Regions from separate parts of the Homo sapiens genome. Here region 1 is linked to region 2. A link means that fine-mapping ties the variant in region 2 to the expression of a gene that starts in the linked region. Tissue or cell type: T cells. Region 2 holds a variant in brackets; the other region holds the start of a gene. All regions are shown on one strand. Distances are from middle to middle.

Region 1 (8,106 bases), 110 kb before region 2:
CTAGGAGTGCAAGCTGGGCTTGGGTTTCTGGAAAGAGGATGGATCTTCAGAGTTTATTTCATGTTAGACTGAGGAGTCCTCAGAGCTTGTGTGGTTTTCAAGGGTGTTTTTCCTTCTCTCCAGGATGAAGATGGGAAGGAGTTGTCTGATGAGGACATAAGAGTGTAGGCTGACACCTTCATGTTTGAGGGAGAGGATCCCAGTGAGGACCAAGATGTCTCATCCCAGGGACGTGGTGGGTGGACCCTGGATGGCTTCACCCTTCCCATCCCCCTTCCCCCATCCTCTCTGAGGCCCTCAATCCATGGGTGCTGTCCACCCTGTTGTGCTGAAGCAGCCCAGAGACCCAAGACTGCCTGGCTGCCCCTCAGGCTATGACACCAGGACCAGTGGTCTCTCCTGGGTCCAGTACAACCTTGCAATGCACCCAGAATGCCAGGAGCGCTGCGGGCAGGAAAGGCAAGAGTTTCTGAAGGTCTGGGAGCCTAAAGAGATTGAATGGTGAGTGCAGGTGCTGGTGGCTGTTCCTGAGCTCCATGACTCATGTTGGCAATGCCGATGGCTCTGCTCCCCAGGTGGGGATGGGAGGAGGAGTTGTTTTTGTCTATTCTGCTACTATTGCTTAGTGGGAGTAGGAGTAGAGGATGACAGGCAAGGCTTAATACCCAGTCTGGCTATCAGGGGAGAAGTTGCAGGCTGTTTGGACAGCAAAGATCTGCTCTGCTGAGAGAATTGGTGACAACATGTGAGGGGAGATGATGCCACTTAACACATGTTTAGTAGATGAACTTCCCCTTTACTCCCTTCTTTTTATCCCTGAAATGTCATTTTGCATGCATAATCTGTTTTCGTTATTGCAACAACCTTGTGAGGTGCTGCTGCTGAAACGCCCATTTACGGACGTGAAGGAGCACAGCCTGGTGGTGAGGGGGGCACAATGTGAGGCTGGGTGGGTGGTCTGGGTGCACAGCCCAGATCCACCAGCTCTATGACTGTGGGTAGTCACTCAAATATTTTCCAGACTGGATTTCTCATTTGTAAAATGGAAAAACAAAATGGTTAATATAGTTAAAAGACTTAAAACAGGCTCCATGACTCATGTTGGCAATGTCGATGGCCGCCATTCCTGCTCTAACCTGCTTGCCCATCCCAGGCACACAGGAGGTCTGCAGTGAGCTGAGCCCCTCTAGCCACTGGGGGCACTTTCTTCTGTGTCCCTAGGACCCTGCCTGTTCATCAACCCCTGGCTTTGCTCCCTGAGCCTAAGAAGGATGGAACCACCAGCAGGTGAGGTCTGTCCTTGCAGAGGTAGTGGGGATTTTGGGGGATGCACCCTACGCGAATGAAGCTGTAGGACCAGGTGCCTGAATCCCCTGGCTGATTGAGCTGGCAGGGGTGGTGGGGTGGGGGTGGTCTAGGGGCTCCCCAGTACCCAGCCAGTGTCAGGAGTACTGTCTTCCCCACCCTCCTGCTCAGCAGTTCTGCTAGGAGCCCCCTCCTTCAAGCGCCCCCCTCACCTGAGTCCACCCCACAGGACAATTCAGGACAGGATCTAGGGAGGGCCAGGAGGGGAGCCCTGGATCTGTTGGGAGGAGAATCCTGCATGTGGGAGAAGGAGCCAGGTGCTGATCCAAGGGCCTCAAGATATTTCCCCTTTGGGGCTATCACACTGCCTGAGATTACTCCATTATAAATGTCCCTATATTAATATGGCATTGACACTAAAGAATGGGGGTGGAGCAGCATGGCAGAGGGAACGGATTTGGACTTGAGGGTCTCATAGTCTTGAGTTCCTATGAGCTCTGCAACTTGGACTAGAGGCCTGCCCTCTCTGAGCCTCAGTTTGCTTTTGTGTTAAATGGACACCTTCTCTCCTCTGGATGCCATCACTCAGGTCTCTTCAACAATGCCCAGGGTTCTGGCCTAGGGAGCTGTTGGGAGGGTGGTGGGACAGCTTTGGGCACTGTGATGCAGGTGAGCATCTGATACAAGCAGGTGCACGTTATATAGAGCACCTGGCACATAGTAGGTGCACCTTATGTAGAGCACCTGGCACACAGTAGGTGTACTTTATGTGGCGTACCTAGCACATAGTAGGTACACTTTATGCGGCATACCTGGCACACAGTAGGTGCTCTTTATGTAGCATATCTGGCACACAATAAGGCACACTTTATATAGTGTACCTGGCACACAGTATGTGTGCTTTATGTCAAGTATGTTGCACCGAGTAGTTTTACTTTATGTAGGGGACCTAACACACGGGAGAAGCATTTTATGTGGAACATCTGGCACACAGTAGGTGTGCTTTATTTAGAGCACCTGGCACACAGCAAGCATGGTTTATATAAAGGGCCAGGGACTCAAGATACAGGATTTGTGAAGGGCTCCCAGCATACAGTAGACAGTATTTATGTGGAGCTCCTGGCACACAGTAGGTGCACTATATGTAGAATAGCCAGCACACAGTAGACAAGATTTATGTAGATTACTTGATGCAGAGTAGGTGCGCTTTCTGTGGGTCACCAGGTACGTAGTACACATGCTCAATGTGGAGCACCTGACACACAGTAGGTATGCTTTATATACAGCACATGGCACAGAGTAGGCACGCTTTATATGAAGTACTCTGCATAAAGTAAGCTTACATTATGTACAGCATGCTGCACACAGTAGGTGAGCTTTATGTGGCATACCTGGCACATAGTAGACAGAATTTATGTACAGTATCTGATACACAGTAAGTGCACTTTATATAGTGAAACTGGCACACAGTAGGTGCACACAGTAGTGCTTTCCGTACAGTCTTTCGCATGGAGTAGAGACAGGCACACAGCAGCTCAAGTGCTAGTTGTCATCCCCTTCCCTTCAGTCCCTCTTTTTGGAGCTCCCTTTTCTTAGGAGCCTTCCTCCGTCGCCCTCTAAGGCCTCATCTGACATCCCATTTCCCAGATGGGAAGCCTGAGCCCAGGATGGCCACACTGCCCACAGTCAGAGAAAGGACAGGGCAGAACAAGGACTCCACTCGGGATCCCCTTGCTCTGCCCTCCCCTGCCTGGACCCCGTCAGCTCAAGGCCCCTCTCAGCCTCATCCCCTGTGCCTCCGCTCTGTCCTCCTAAGCTGAGCCCAGCTTCTAGGTTTGCTCCTCCAGCTGGGCTCTTTATCCCCAGAATCTGACGAAGGTAATCCTCAGCGGGGTTGGGGCTGGATTCTTTCTTCCTGCTTCAAGCAGTCAGGCCTCAACTCAGGCCCTGGGCTGCCAGGAGGCAGGACTTGAACTCTTGCCAGGCTGTGAAGCCAGAGATGAGAGGCTTCTGTCTCTGAATCTCCTAAGTCTGCACCAAGATGTAGTGCCTGACATCCTCCCCGCCCATGTTTGGAGAGGAGCCCAGATGATCTGGGACAAGGGTTGGCCTGGCCCAGCTCAGCTGGCTGCCAACTGTCATGATAAGTATATGCTTTTATCTGAACACCCTTGTCTTGGAAGGGCAGGGTGGAGGTAAACTTGGGGTTCAGAGTCCCCTCTAACCACCCTCCAACTTCCCCTGCAAACTCCCAAGAAGGTACTGAGACCTGAGAATTCAGTGCTCGTGCTGGGGCACCCTGAGCTGCACCCAGTGGGCCCAACCCCAGGTTTTGGCTGGCTGCCCAGGCACGGAAGACACACCCAGGCTGTGGGGATTGGCTGCCTCAGCCCAGCCCAGCCCAGCCCCGCCTCCTACGGCCTTCCCTAGATCAGGGGCCAGGGCCAAAGACCTCCCAGCAGAAGAGGAGAAGAGGTTGTGTGGGACAAGCTGCTCCCGACAGAAGGTACCAGGCTGGGGGTGGCAGGGCTGGAAGGTCCTGGCCTGGGATGAAGAGGGGACTGCCTAAGGCTGGGGTGGCTCCAAGATGCTGGCATGGGAAACTGGGGGTTTCCTGGTAACTGGACTCCTAGCAAACTCCCAAGGATTCAGGTGGGGCCCTTCTGGACTCTAATCGGCCCATCTCTTTCCCTTTCTGTGTGGTTACCAGGTTACTGGAGGCCACTTAGTTGTTGGTTTTGGTTGGGACTTTCTGGACTTCAGATCTCAGCCCTCGTTTACTCACCCCTGAGCCCTCCCTGCCCTGCCCCCAGCAGTTCCTGACTTCGCCCCTATACACTGTCCCCGGAGCTCTTCCCTGGGCCTCAGGTCCTCACCCTGCATCCCCTCTGCCCTGCAGGATGTCGCTGCTGAGCCTGCCCTGGCTGGGCCTCAGACCGGTGGCAACGTCCCCATGGCTACTCCTGCTGCTGGTTGTGGGCTCCTGGCTACTCGCCCGCATCCTGGCTTGGACCTATGCCTTCTATAACAACTGCCGCCGGCTCCAGTGTTTCCCACAGCCCCCAAAACGGAACTGGTTTTGGGGTCACCTGGGCCTGGTGAGTGTGACAGCAAAATGTGTCTGGGGTCTCAGGGTGGATGGACTTCCAGAGGAGCAGGAATGGGGCTCAGTGAGCTAGGTATTGATGGTGGCTGGGGTCTGCGACCCCAGAGAAGCAAGAGAGATGGCTCACTCATTCCTCTGCTAACTCACTCATTCCTCTACCCACTCACTCCTCTACCCACTCACTCACTCCTCTACCCACTCACTCACTCCTCTACCCACTCACTCATTCCTCTACCCACTCACTCATTCCTCTACCCACTCACTCCTCTACCCACTCACTCACTCCTCTACCCACTCACTCACTCCTCTCCTCACTCACTCATTCCTCTCCTCACTCACTCATTCCTCTACCCACTCACTCACTCCTTTCCTCACTCACTCACTCCTCTCCTCACTCACTCATTCCTCTCCTCACTCACTCATTCCTCTCCTCACTCACTCATTCCTCTACCCACTCACTCACTCCTCTACCCACTCACTCAATCCTCTACCCACTCACTCACTCCTCTACCCACTCACACATTGCCCTCCTCACTCACTCATTCCTCTCCTCACTCACTCATTCCCCTCCTCACTCATTCCTCTCCTCACTCACTCATTCCTCTACCCACTCACTCATTCCTCTCCTCACTCACTCATTCCTCTACCCACTCACTCATTCCTCTCCTCACTCACTCATTCCTCTCCTCACTCGCGCATTCCTCTCATTCGCGCATTCCTCTCATTCACTCATTCCTCTCCTCACTCACTCATTCCTCTCCTCACTCTTATTCGTCTGCTCACTCACTCATTCCTCTGCTCACTCATTCCTCTCCTCATTCACTCCTTCCCCTCATCACTCACTCATTCCTCTGCCCACTCACTCATTCCTCTACCCATTCACTTATTCCTCTATCCACTCACTTTTTGCTCTCCCCACTCACTCATTCCTCTCCTCACTCACTCATTCCTCTCCTCATTCACTGATTCCTCTACCCACCGACTCATTCCTTTCCTCATTCATTCATTCCTCTGCAGTTCCATGCCAAACCTTTCTCACCTCCCTGTCCTCCCACCTCAGCCTGCTTGGATCCTTTTCCTGCCTGTCTTCCCTACCGTAGTGCCCCTCCCAGAGGCTCCTGTATGGTTGTGGGGTGCACAGAGCAGGGCTCTCCTGGCATTCCCACCTTCTCCACTGCTGGACTTGAAGCCTTCTGAGCCCCGATAGACAGGCTGCTCCCTGCATGGCCCATTTGCTTGTATCTGCCCATCTCTGGGCTGCTGCTTTCCCGCAGGAATTATCTCTGACTTCCTTCCCCACGGAGGGACACAGCTGGACCAGAAGAGAAGTGCAGGCAGTCTCCCACACCCTCTCCTTCCAGGGACAATGTGCTCTTCCCCAGTAAGATGTCCCAGTGAGCCCTGTAGCCCAACCTGGATATAATTTGGCCACTCCCTTCCCCTTTCAGAAGCCGTCCTTGGTACTCCCAAACCTTTCCCTCCGACTGGGACCGGCCCTCCCCTTTGGGGGATGTGGCCTCTGTCTGCTCACTTACAAAAGGCAGGATTGATCGGTGTGTCCACAGGTGCACAGGAGGCACTAGCACAGAACCTGGCATAAGTGAGGCTCTCCTAGGTGGGAGCTGCCATCCTGATGGACATTAGAGTCACCTCTGCTCCCCTGGAGGCTGCTGAGAATGGAGGGCCCTCAGGACGCAGGCCCTTTGTCTGTGGGAGGAACCAGTGCCCATGTGGACCAACCAGGACACAAAAGGATATGGCAACCAGCTCTAGGGATATGTCCTGAGGCCACACTGCTGCCCACAAACCTCCTTCCATGGGGACCTTCCCATATAGCAATCCCCAGATTGAAATCAATCCAGGATGAGAAAACACATCCTCTTGAGCAGACAGCTTGTCTTCTCTCTCTGCTTTGGTATTTACCCTTGGATCTTGGGGACAGCTCCAAGAGAGAAGGAGCAGAAGTCAGCAGAAACCCACTGCAGCTGCTGAGAATCCAGACACGCTGCTCACTGCAGAGGCTGCACCACATCCGGTGGCTGTGGGGGGACTTGCTGTGGCTTCATCTAGGGAGGTGCATTAGTCAGGGTTCTCCCTAGAAACGGAATCTCCTTAGAAACAGATAGGGTGTTTCTTCTTATCTCTAATGCATGTATGTATGGAGACAGAAAGAGATAGAGAGATAAGAATTTATTATGGGAATTGGATAATGTGATGATGGAGGCCAAGAAGTCCCATGATATATCATCTGCAAGCCAGAAACCAGGGACACTGGTGGTGTAAATTCAGCCTGAGTCCAGAAAGGCCTGAGTCCCTGGAGTTCTGAGGGCAGGAGAAGACGGATATCCCAGCAGCAGAAGAGAGAGCAAGTTCTTCCTTTCCTCTGCCTTTTGTCCTGTTCATGCCCTCAATGGATTGGATGGGGTCTGGCGTCTCAGGGTGGGTGGACTTCCAGAGGGGTGGGACTTCCAGTAGGGGTTCAGGGAGCTGTGTATTGATGGTGGCTGGGGTCTGGGAACCCAGAGAACCAAGGGAGACGGCTCACTCATTCCTCTCCTCACTTACTCATTCCTGTGCCCATTCACTCATTCCTCTCCTCACTCACTCATTCTAATACCAACTCACTCATTCCTCTCCTCACTCACTCATTCCTCTCCTCACTCACTCATTCCTGTGCCCATTCACTCATTCCTCTCCTCACTCACTCATTCCTCTCCTCATTCAGTCATTCCTGTCCTCACTCACTCATTCCTTTTCTCACTCATTCATTCCTCTCCTCACCCACTCATTCCTCTGCCCACTCACTCATTCATATCCTCACTCACTCATTCCTCTACCCACACTCATTCCTCTCCTCACTAATTCCAATACCAACTCACTCATTCCTCTCCTCACTTACTCATTCCTCTATCCATTCACTCATTCCTCTCCTCACTCACTCATTCCTCTGCTCACTTAGTCATTCCTCTCCTCACTCAACTCATTCCTCACTCACTCATTCCTCTCCTCACTCACTCATTCCCCTCCTCACTCACTCATTTCTCTCCTCACTCATTCATTCCTTTACCCACTCACTCATTCCTCTACCCACTCACTCATTCCTCTCCTCACTCATTCCCTTCCTCCCATTCCTTTACCCACTCACTCATTCCTCTCCTCACTCACTCATTCCTCTCCTCACTTACTCATTCCTCTCCCCACTCACTCATTCCTCTCCTCACTCACTCATTCCTGTGCCCATTCACTCATTCCTCTCCTCACTCACTCATTCCAATACCAACTCACTCATTCCTCTCCTCACTCACTCATTCCTCCCCTCATTCAGTCATTCCTGTCCTCACTCACTCATTCCTCTCCTCACTCACTCATTCCTCTGCTCACTCACTCATTCATATCCTCACTCACTCATTCCTCTACCCACACTCATTCCTCTCCTCACTAATTCCAATACCAACTCACTCATTCCTCTCCTCACTTACTCATTCCTCTACCCATTCACTCATTCCTCTCCTCACTCACTCATTCCTCTGCTCACTTAGTCATTCCTCTCCTCACTCAACTCATTCCTCTGCTCACTTAGTCATTCCTCTCCTCACTCAACTCATTCCTCACTCACTCATTCCTGTCCTCACTCACTCATTCCTCTGCTCACTCTCTCATTCCCCTCCTCACTCACTCATTTCTCTCCTCACTCA
Region 2 (8,106 bases):
GGGGAGTGCGTGAGTGAGGAGGGGAGTGAGTGAGTGCATGGGTAGAGGAGTGAGTGAGTGCATGGGTAGAGGAGTGAGTGAGTGAGGAGAGGAGTGAGTGAGTGCATGGGTAGAGGAGTGCGTGAGTGAGGAGAGGAGTGAGTGAGTGCATGGGTAGAGGAGTGAGTGAGTGCATGGGTAGAGGAGTGAGTGAGTGAGGAGAGGAGTGAGTGAGTGAGGAGAGGAGTGAGTGAGTGAGGAGAGGAGTGCGTGAGTGAGGAGGGGAGTGAGTGAGTGCATGGGTAGAGGAGTGAGTGAGTGCATGGGTAGAGGAGTGAGTGAGGAGAGGAGTGAGTGAGTGAGGAGGGGAGTGAGTGAGTGAGGAGGGGAGTGAGTGAGTGAGGAGGGGAGTGAGTGAGTGAGGAGGGGAGTGAGTGAGTGAGTGAGGAGGGGAGTGCGTGAGTGAGGAGAGGAGTGAGTGAGTGCATGGGTAGAGGAGTGAGTGAGTGAGGAGAGGAGTGAGTGAGTGAGGAGAGGAGTGAGTGAGTGAGGAGAGGAGTGAGTGAGTGAGGAGAGGAGTGAGTGAGTGAGGAGAGGAGTGCGTGAGTGAGGAGAGGAGTGAGTGAGTGCATGGGTAGAGGAGTGAGTGAGTGCATGGGTAGAGGAGTGAGTGAGTGCATGGGTAGAGGAGTGAGTGAGTGAGGAGAGGAGTGAGTGAGTGAGGAGAGGAGTGAGTGAGTGAGGAGGGGAGTGAGTGAGTGAGGAGGGGAGTGAGTGAGGAGGGGAGTGAGTGAGTGAGGAGGGGAGTGAGTGAGTGAGGAGGGGAGTGAGTGAGTGAGGAGGGGAGTGAGTGCATGGGTAGAGGAGTGAGTGAGTGAGGAGAGGAGTGAGTGCATGGGTAGAGGAGTGAGTGAATGAGCCGCCTCCCTCGCTTCTCTGCCGGCCCACACCTCAGCCACCCTCTAAACCCAGCTCCTTGATCCCCCTTCCTGCCCTTTGGGAATTCCATCCACCCTGAGATCCCAGAGTCATCCTGCTGCCACACTCACGAGGTCCTGGTTGACCCCAAAACCATTTCTGTTTTGGGGGTTGTGGAAAGTACTGAAGGCGGCGGCAGTTGTCATAGAAGGCATAGGTCCAGGCCAGGAAGCCGGCCAGGAGCCGGGAGGCCCCAGCCAGCAGCAGGAGCAGCCACGGGAATGCTGCCACCTGCCCGAGGCCCAGCCAGGACAGGCTCAGCTGCGGCATCCTGCAGGGCAGACAGGATGGAGGGTGAGATCCTGAGGCCCAGGGAAAGTCTCAGGGAGCTCCAGGGACAGTGGAGAGAAGCAGGGAAGGGGTGGGTGGAGGCAGGAAAGGGAGGGCTCTGGGATGAATAAACAAGGACTGAGAGCTAAATTCCAGAAAGCCCCAGCCAAATCCAATAGCCAAGTGGCCTCTAGTTGCCTAGTAACCACCCAGAAAGGAGAAGAGAGAGAGAGACTGATTAGAGTCCAGAAAGGCCCAGCCTGAATCACTGGGAGGTTGCCAGGGGTCCGGTTACCAGGAAACCACCAGTCTCCCAGGCCAGCAGCCTGGAGACACCCCAGCCTTGGGCAGTGCCCCTCCCCATCCCAGGCCAGGAGGCTCCAGTCTGACCACCCCCAGCCTGGCACCTTCTGTCAGGAGCAGCTTGTACCACACAACCTCCTCTCCTCTTCTGCTGGGAGTTCTTTGCCTCTGGCCCCTGATTTAGGGAAAGGTCGTGGGAGGCTGGGCTGCGCTGGGCTGGGCCAGTCAATCTCCACAGCCTGGGTGCATCTCCCTTGCCTGGGAGATGCCGGCCAAAACCTGGGGTTTGGCCAGCTGGGTGCAGAGGAACCAGCTCAGGGTGCCCCAGTATGGGGACTGGATCCTCAGGTCTCAGCATCTCCCTCACAGTTTAGAGGGGAAGTTGGGGAGTGGTTAAAGGGGACTCTGAGCCCCAAGTTTACAGCCACCCTGCCCTTTCAAGGCAAGGATGTGGCAGGTAAAAGCATGAACTTGAGAGTTCACAGCCACCTGAGCTGGGCCAGGCCAACCCTTGTCCCAGATCATCTGGGCTCCTCTCCAAACATGGGCGGGGAGGATGTCAGGTGCTGCATCTTGGTACAGACTTAGGAGATTCAGAGACAGAAGCCTCTCATCTCTGGCTTCACAGCCTGGCAAGAGTTCAAGTCCTGCCTCCAGGCAGCCCAGGGCCTGAGCTGAGACCTGACTGCTTGAAGCAGGAAGAAAGAATCCAGTCCCAACCCTGCTGAGGATTACCTGGGTCAGAGTCTGGGGATAAAGAGCCCAGCTGGAGGAGCAAATCTAGAGGCTGGGCTCAGCTTAGAGGACAGAGCAGAGGCATAGGGGATGAGGCTGAGAGGGGCTGTGAGCAGACGGGGTCCAGGCAGGGGAGGGCAGAGCGAGGGGACCCCGAGTGTAGTCCTTGTTCTGACCTGTCCTTTCTCTGACTGTGGGCAATGTGGCCATCCTGGGCTCAGGCTTCCCATCTGGGAAATGGGATGTCAGATGAGGCCTTAGAGGGCGACAGAGGAAGGCTCCTAAGAAGAGAGAGCTCCAAAAAGAGGGACTGAAGGGAAGGGGATGACAACTAGCACTTGAGCTGCTGTGTGCCTGTCTCTACTCCATGCGAAAGACTGTATGGAAAACACTACTGTGTGTACCTACTGCGTGCCAGTCTCACTATATAAAGTGCACCTACTGTGTATCAGGTACTCTACATAAATTCTGTCTACTATGTGCCAGGTACACCACATAAACCTCACCTACTGTGTGCAGCATGCTCTACATAATGTAAGCTTACTTTGTGCAGAGTACTTTATACAAAGCGTGCCTACTCTGTGCCACATGCCATATATAAAGCATACCTACTGTGTGCCAGGTGCTCCACATAAAGAGTGTCTACTGTATGCTGGGCGCCCTTCACAAATCCTGTATCTTGAGTCCCTGGTCCTTTATATAAACCATGCCTGCTGTGTGCCAGGTGTTCTAAATAAAGCACACCTATTGTGTGCCAGATGTCCTACATAAAATGTTCCTCCTGTATGTTGGGCCCCGTACATAAAATAAAACTGCTCTGTGCAACATACTTGACATAAAGCACACATACTATGTGCCAGGTACACTACATAAAGACCACCTACTGTGTGCCAGGTATGCCACATAAAGTGTGCCTACTATGTGTTAGGTACTCCACGTAAAGTACACCTACTGTGTGCCAGGTGCTCTACATAAAGTGCACCTACTGTGTGTCAGGTGCTCTACGTAAACCACACCTGCTTGTATCAGATGCCCAGCTGGATGACAACGCCCAAAGCTGTCCCACTACCCTCCCATCAGCTCTCTAGGCCAGAGTCCCGGGGATTGTTGGAGAGACCCAAATGATGGCATCCAGAGGAGGGAAGATGTCCATTTAACATAAAAGCAAACTGAGGCTCAGAGAGGCCAGGCCTCTAGCCCAAGTTGCAGAGCTCACAGGAACTCAGGTCTATGAGACCCTCAAGTCCAAATCCTTTCCTTCTGCCGTGCTGCTCCACCCCCATTCATTAGGGTCAATGCCATATTAATACAGGGACATTTATAATGGAGGAATTTCAGGCAGCGTGGTGGCCCAGAGGGGAGCTATCTGGAGGCTGTTGAATCAGCACCTGGCTCCTCCTCCCACACCCAGGATGCTCCACCCAACAGATCCAGGGCTCTCCTCCTGGCCCTCCCTGGATCCTGTCCAGAATTGCCCTATGGGGTAGACTCGGGAGAAGGGGGTCTTGAAGGATGGGG[C/T]TCCTAGCAGAGCTGCTGAGCAGGAGGGTGGGGAAGACAGTGCTCCTGACACTAGCTGGGTGTTGGGGAGCCCCTAGACCTCCCCCACCCCACCACCACTGCCAGCTCAATCAGCCAGGGGATTCAGGCTGAAGGGGGCCAGCCCCTCCACCCCTGTGGGTATTTCTCGTCAGGTGGTACGAGAGACTGAGAAAAGAAATAAGACACAGAGATAAAGTATAGAGAAAGAACAGTGGACCCAGGGGACTGGCACACTCAGCATGCGAGGACCTGTACCGGTGCCGGTCTCTGAGTTCCCTCAATATTTATTGATTACTATTTTCACTGTCTCAGCAAGGGGAGTGCGAGGGAGAAGAGGGTGAACAGGGTGATGATGGGGAGAAGGTCAGCAGGGAAACGTGTGAGTAACAGAATCTGTGTCATGAATAAGTTCAAGGGAAGGTACTGTGCCTGGATGTGCACATGGGCTACATTTATGTTTCTCTTTACCCAAACATCTCAGTGTAGCAAAGAGTAACAGAGCAGTATTGCCACCAGCATATCTCGCCTCCAGCCACAGGGCGGTTTTCTCCTATCTCAGAATAGAATGAACAGTCAGATTTATACTGAGACATTCCCTTCCCAGGGACATGTGGGAAACAGAGGCCTTCCTCTTATCTCAACCACAAAGAGGCTTTCCTCTTTCACTACTCCTCCTCAGCACAGACCCTTTACGGGTGTCGGGCTGGGGACAGTAAAGTCTTTCCCTTCCCACGAGGCCATATCTCAGGCTGTCTCGGTGCGGGGAAACCTTGGACAATACCCAGGCTTTCTTGGGCAGAGGTCCCTGTGGCTTTCCGTGTCCCTGGTTAATAGAGAATGGAGAATGGCGATGACTTTTATCAAGCATACTGTCTGCAAACATATTGTTAACAAGGCACATGCCGCACAGCCCTAAATACCTTAAAACTTGATTCAATACAGCACATGTTTCTGTGAGCACAGGGTTGGGGCTAAAGTTACAGATTAACAACAGTATCTCAAAGCAGAACAATTTTTCTTTGTACAGATCAAAATGGAGTTTCTTATGTCTTCCTTTTTCTACATAGACACAGTAACAGTCTGATCTCTCTTTCTTTTCCCCACATCAGGCAGCTGGACTTACAGCCCCCAGTAAGTGGGGTGCATCACCCAATATACCCACCCCCTCTGCAAGGACAGACCTCACCTGCTGGCAGTTCCATTCCTGTCAGACTCAGGGAGCAAGGCCAGAGTTTCATGAACAGGTGGGCAGATTGCTTTGAGCCCAGGAGTTGGAGACCAGCCTGATCCACAAGGCAAAACCGTGTCTCTATAAAAAATACAAAAACTGGTCTCAAACAAACAAACAAACAAACAAACAAAAAACAAAAACAAAAACTGGCCGGGCGCAGTGGCTCACACCTGTAATCCCAGCACTTTGGGAAGCCAAGGCAGGCGGATCACGAGGTCAGGAGATCGAGACCATCCTGGCTAACACTGTGAAACCCCATCTCTACTAAAAATACAAAAAAATTAGCTGGGCCTGGTGGCGGGTGCCTGTAGTCCCAGCTACTTGGGAGGCTGAGGCAGGAGAATGGCGTGAACCTGGGAGGCCGAGCTTGCACTGAGCCGAGATCGCACCACTGCACTCCAGCCTTGGGGACAAAGCAAGACTCCATCTCACAAAAAACAAAACTGAACTAAACAAAAACTAAACTAGCCAGGCATGGTGGCATGTGCCTGTGGTCCCAGCTACTCAGGAGGCTGAGGCTGGAGAATCGCTTGAACCCATAAGGCAGAGGTGCTGTGAGCCGAGATTTCACCACTGCATTCCAGCCTGGGTGACAGAGTGAGACACTGTCTCAAAAAAAAAAAAAAAAAAAAAATCTAGATTGCAATTACTTTCTTTAAGCACATGGAAAAGGACATCTATAGTCTTCCAGATTTTACTTTTGGCATTGAAAAGTTAGCTGTCCATCTCCTTAGAATTAATCTCTCTCTTTACTCCCCTCTTCTTAACTACTGTTATTTTTTTCTCTCTTTTTTTTTCTGAAGTTTTAACACAATGTGTTACGGTGTGGATTTCTCTTTATGGTTGCTTGGGGTTCATTGAGGTTCTCGAATCTAAACTGTTTTCAATCAGTTTTAGAAAAATCTTGGCCACAATTTCTTCAAACAATGCCTGTGCCCTATTTTTTATTTTACTTCTGAAATTCTAATTAAACAAAGGTTACACTTTCTCATTCTGACCCTAATGTTTTCTTCCCTCTCTTTTATTTTTATTTATTTGTTTGTTTGTTTGTTTGTTTTGAGACAGAGTCTCACCCTGTTGCCCAGGTTGGCGTGCAGTGGCACCATCCCGCTCACTGCAACCTTCACCTCTCGAGCTCACACGATTCTCCTGCCTCAGCCTCCCAAGTAGCTGGGATTACAGGTGTTCACCACCACATCTGACTAATTTTTTTTATTATACTTTAAGTTTTAGGGTACATATGCACAACATGCAGGTTTGTTACATATGTATACATGTGCCATGTTGGTGTGCTGCACCCATTAACTCGTCATTTAACATTAGATATATCTCCTAATGCTATCCCTCCACCCACCCCACAACAGTCCCTGGTGTGTGATGTTCTCCTTCCTGTGTCCATGTGTTCTCATTGTTCAGTTCTCACCTATGAGTAAGAACATGCGGTGTTTGGTTTTTTGTTCTTGCGATAGTTTGCTGAGAATGATGGTTTCCAGCTTCATCCATGTCCCTACAAAGGACATGAACTCGTCATTTTTTATGGCTGCATAGTATTCCATGGTGTATATGTGCCACATTTTCTTAATCCAGTCTATCATTGTTGGACATTTGGGTTGGTTCCAAGTCTTTGCTATTGTGAATAGTGCCGCAATAAACATACGTGTGCATGTGTCTTCATAGCAGCATGTTTTATAATCCTCTGGGTATATACCCAGTAATGGGATTGTTGGGTCAAATGATATTTCTAGTTCTAGATCCCTGAGGAATTGCCACACTGGCTTCCACAATGGTTGAACTAGTTTACAGTCCCACCAACAGTGTAAAAGTGTTCCTATTTCTCCACATCCTCTCTAGCACCTGTTGTTTCCTGACTTTTTAATAATCGCCATTCTAACTGGTGTGAGATGGTATCTCATTGTGGTTTTGATTTGCATTTCTCTGATGGCCAGTGATGACGAGCATTTTTTCATGTGTCTTTTGGCTGCATAAATGTCTTCTTTTGAGAAGTGTCTGTTCATATCCTTCACCCACTTTTTGATGGGGTTGTTTGTTTTTTCTTGTAAATATGTTGGAGTTCATTGTAGATTCTGAGCTTTGTTCTTTTGGCTTAGGATTGACTTGGCAATGTGGGCTCTTTTTTGGTTCCATATGAACTTTAAAGTAGTTTTTTCCAATTCTGTGAAGAAAGTCATTGGTAGCTTGATGGGGATGGCATTGAATCTATAAATTACCTTGGGCAGTATGGCCATTTTCACAATATTGATTCTTCCTACCCATGAGCATGGAATGTTCTTCCATTTGTTTGTATCCTCTTTTATTTCATCGAGCAGTGGTTTGTAGTTCTCCTTGAAGAGGTCCTTCTATCTGATCTTTGACAACATGACAAAAACAAGAAATGGGGAAAGGATTCCCTATTTAATAAATGGTGCTGGGAAAACTGGCTAGCCATATGTAGAAAGCTGAAACTGGATCCCTTCCTTACACCTTACACAAAAATTAATTCAAGATGGACTAAAGACTTAAATGTTAGACCTAAAACCATAAAAACCCTAGAAGAAAACCTAGGCAATACCTTTCAGTACATAGGCATGGGCAAGGACTTCATGTCTAAAACACCAAAAGCAACGGCAACAAAAGCCAAAATTGACAAATGGGATATAATTAAACTAAAGAGCTTCTGCACAGCAAAAGAAACTACCATCAGAGTGAACAGTCAACCTACAGAATGGGAGAAAATTTTTGCAATCTACTCATCTGACAAAGGGCTAATATCCAGAATCTACATCTGACTAATTTTTGTATTTTGAGTAGAGATGGGGTTTCGCCATGTTGGCCAGGCTGGTCTTGAGCTCCTGAACTCAAGTGATCCACCTGCCTCAGCCTCCCAGAGTGCTGGGATTACAGGCATGAGCCACCGCGCCCGGCCCCCAACTCACTAATTCTCTCTTCAATTGTGTCTGACATGCATTAAACTTCTCCTGGGATATTAATATTGTAGCTTTGGTTCTAAAAATTATATATCTTTTTTTTCAAATCAACCCTGCCGCTCTTTACAATGCTTTATCCTTGAAGAT

The links. PIP is the estimated chance that this variant, and not a neighbour inherited with it, causes the effect.
Region 1: it holds the start of CYP4F12, and the variant in region 2 is fine-mapped to the expression of CYP4F12 in T cells (TOPMed, PIP above 0.99). The same link has a PIP of 0.9 or more in blood mononuclear cells.

The regions. Positions count from the first base shown.
Region 1 is chr19:15,669,325-15,677,430 of GRCh38, forward strand. CYP4F12 (cytochrome P450 family 4 subfamily F member 12) reads left to right here and starts at 3,763. Exons shown (of 13, transcript NM_023944.4): 1 at 3,763-3,811; 2 at 4,205-4,403. The coding sequence starts at 4,206.
Region 2 is chr19:15,778,685-15,786,790 of GRCh38, forward strand. It overlaps the pseudogene CYP4F24P. Among named protein-coding and RNA genes, the nearest start is that of OR10H5, 4.9 kb to the right of the region's middle. The variant C/T (reference allele first, on the strand shown) is at 3,784.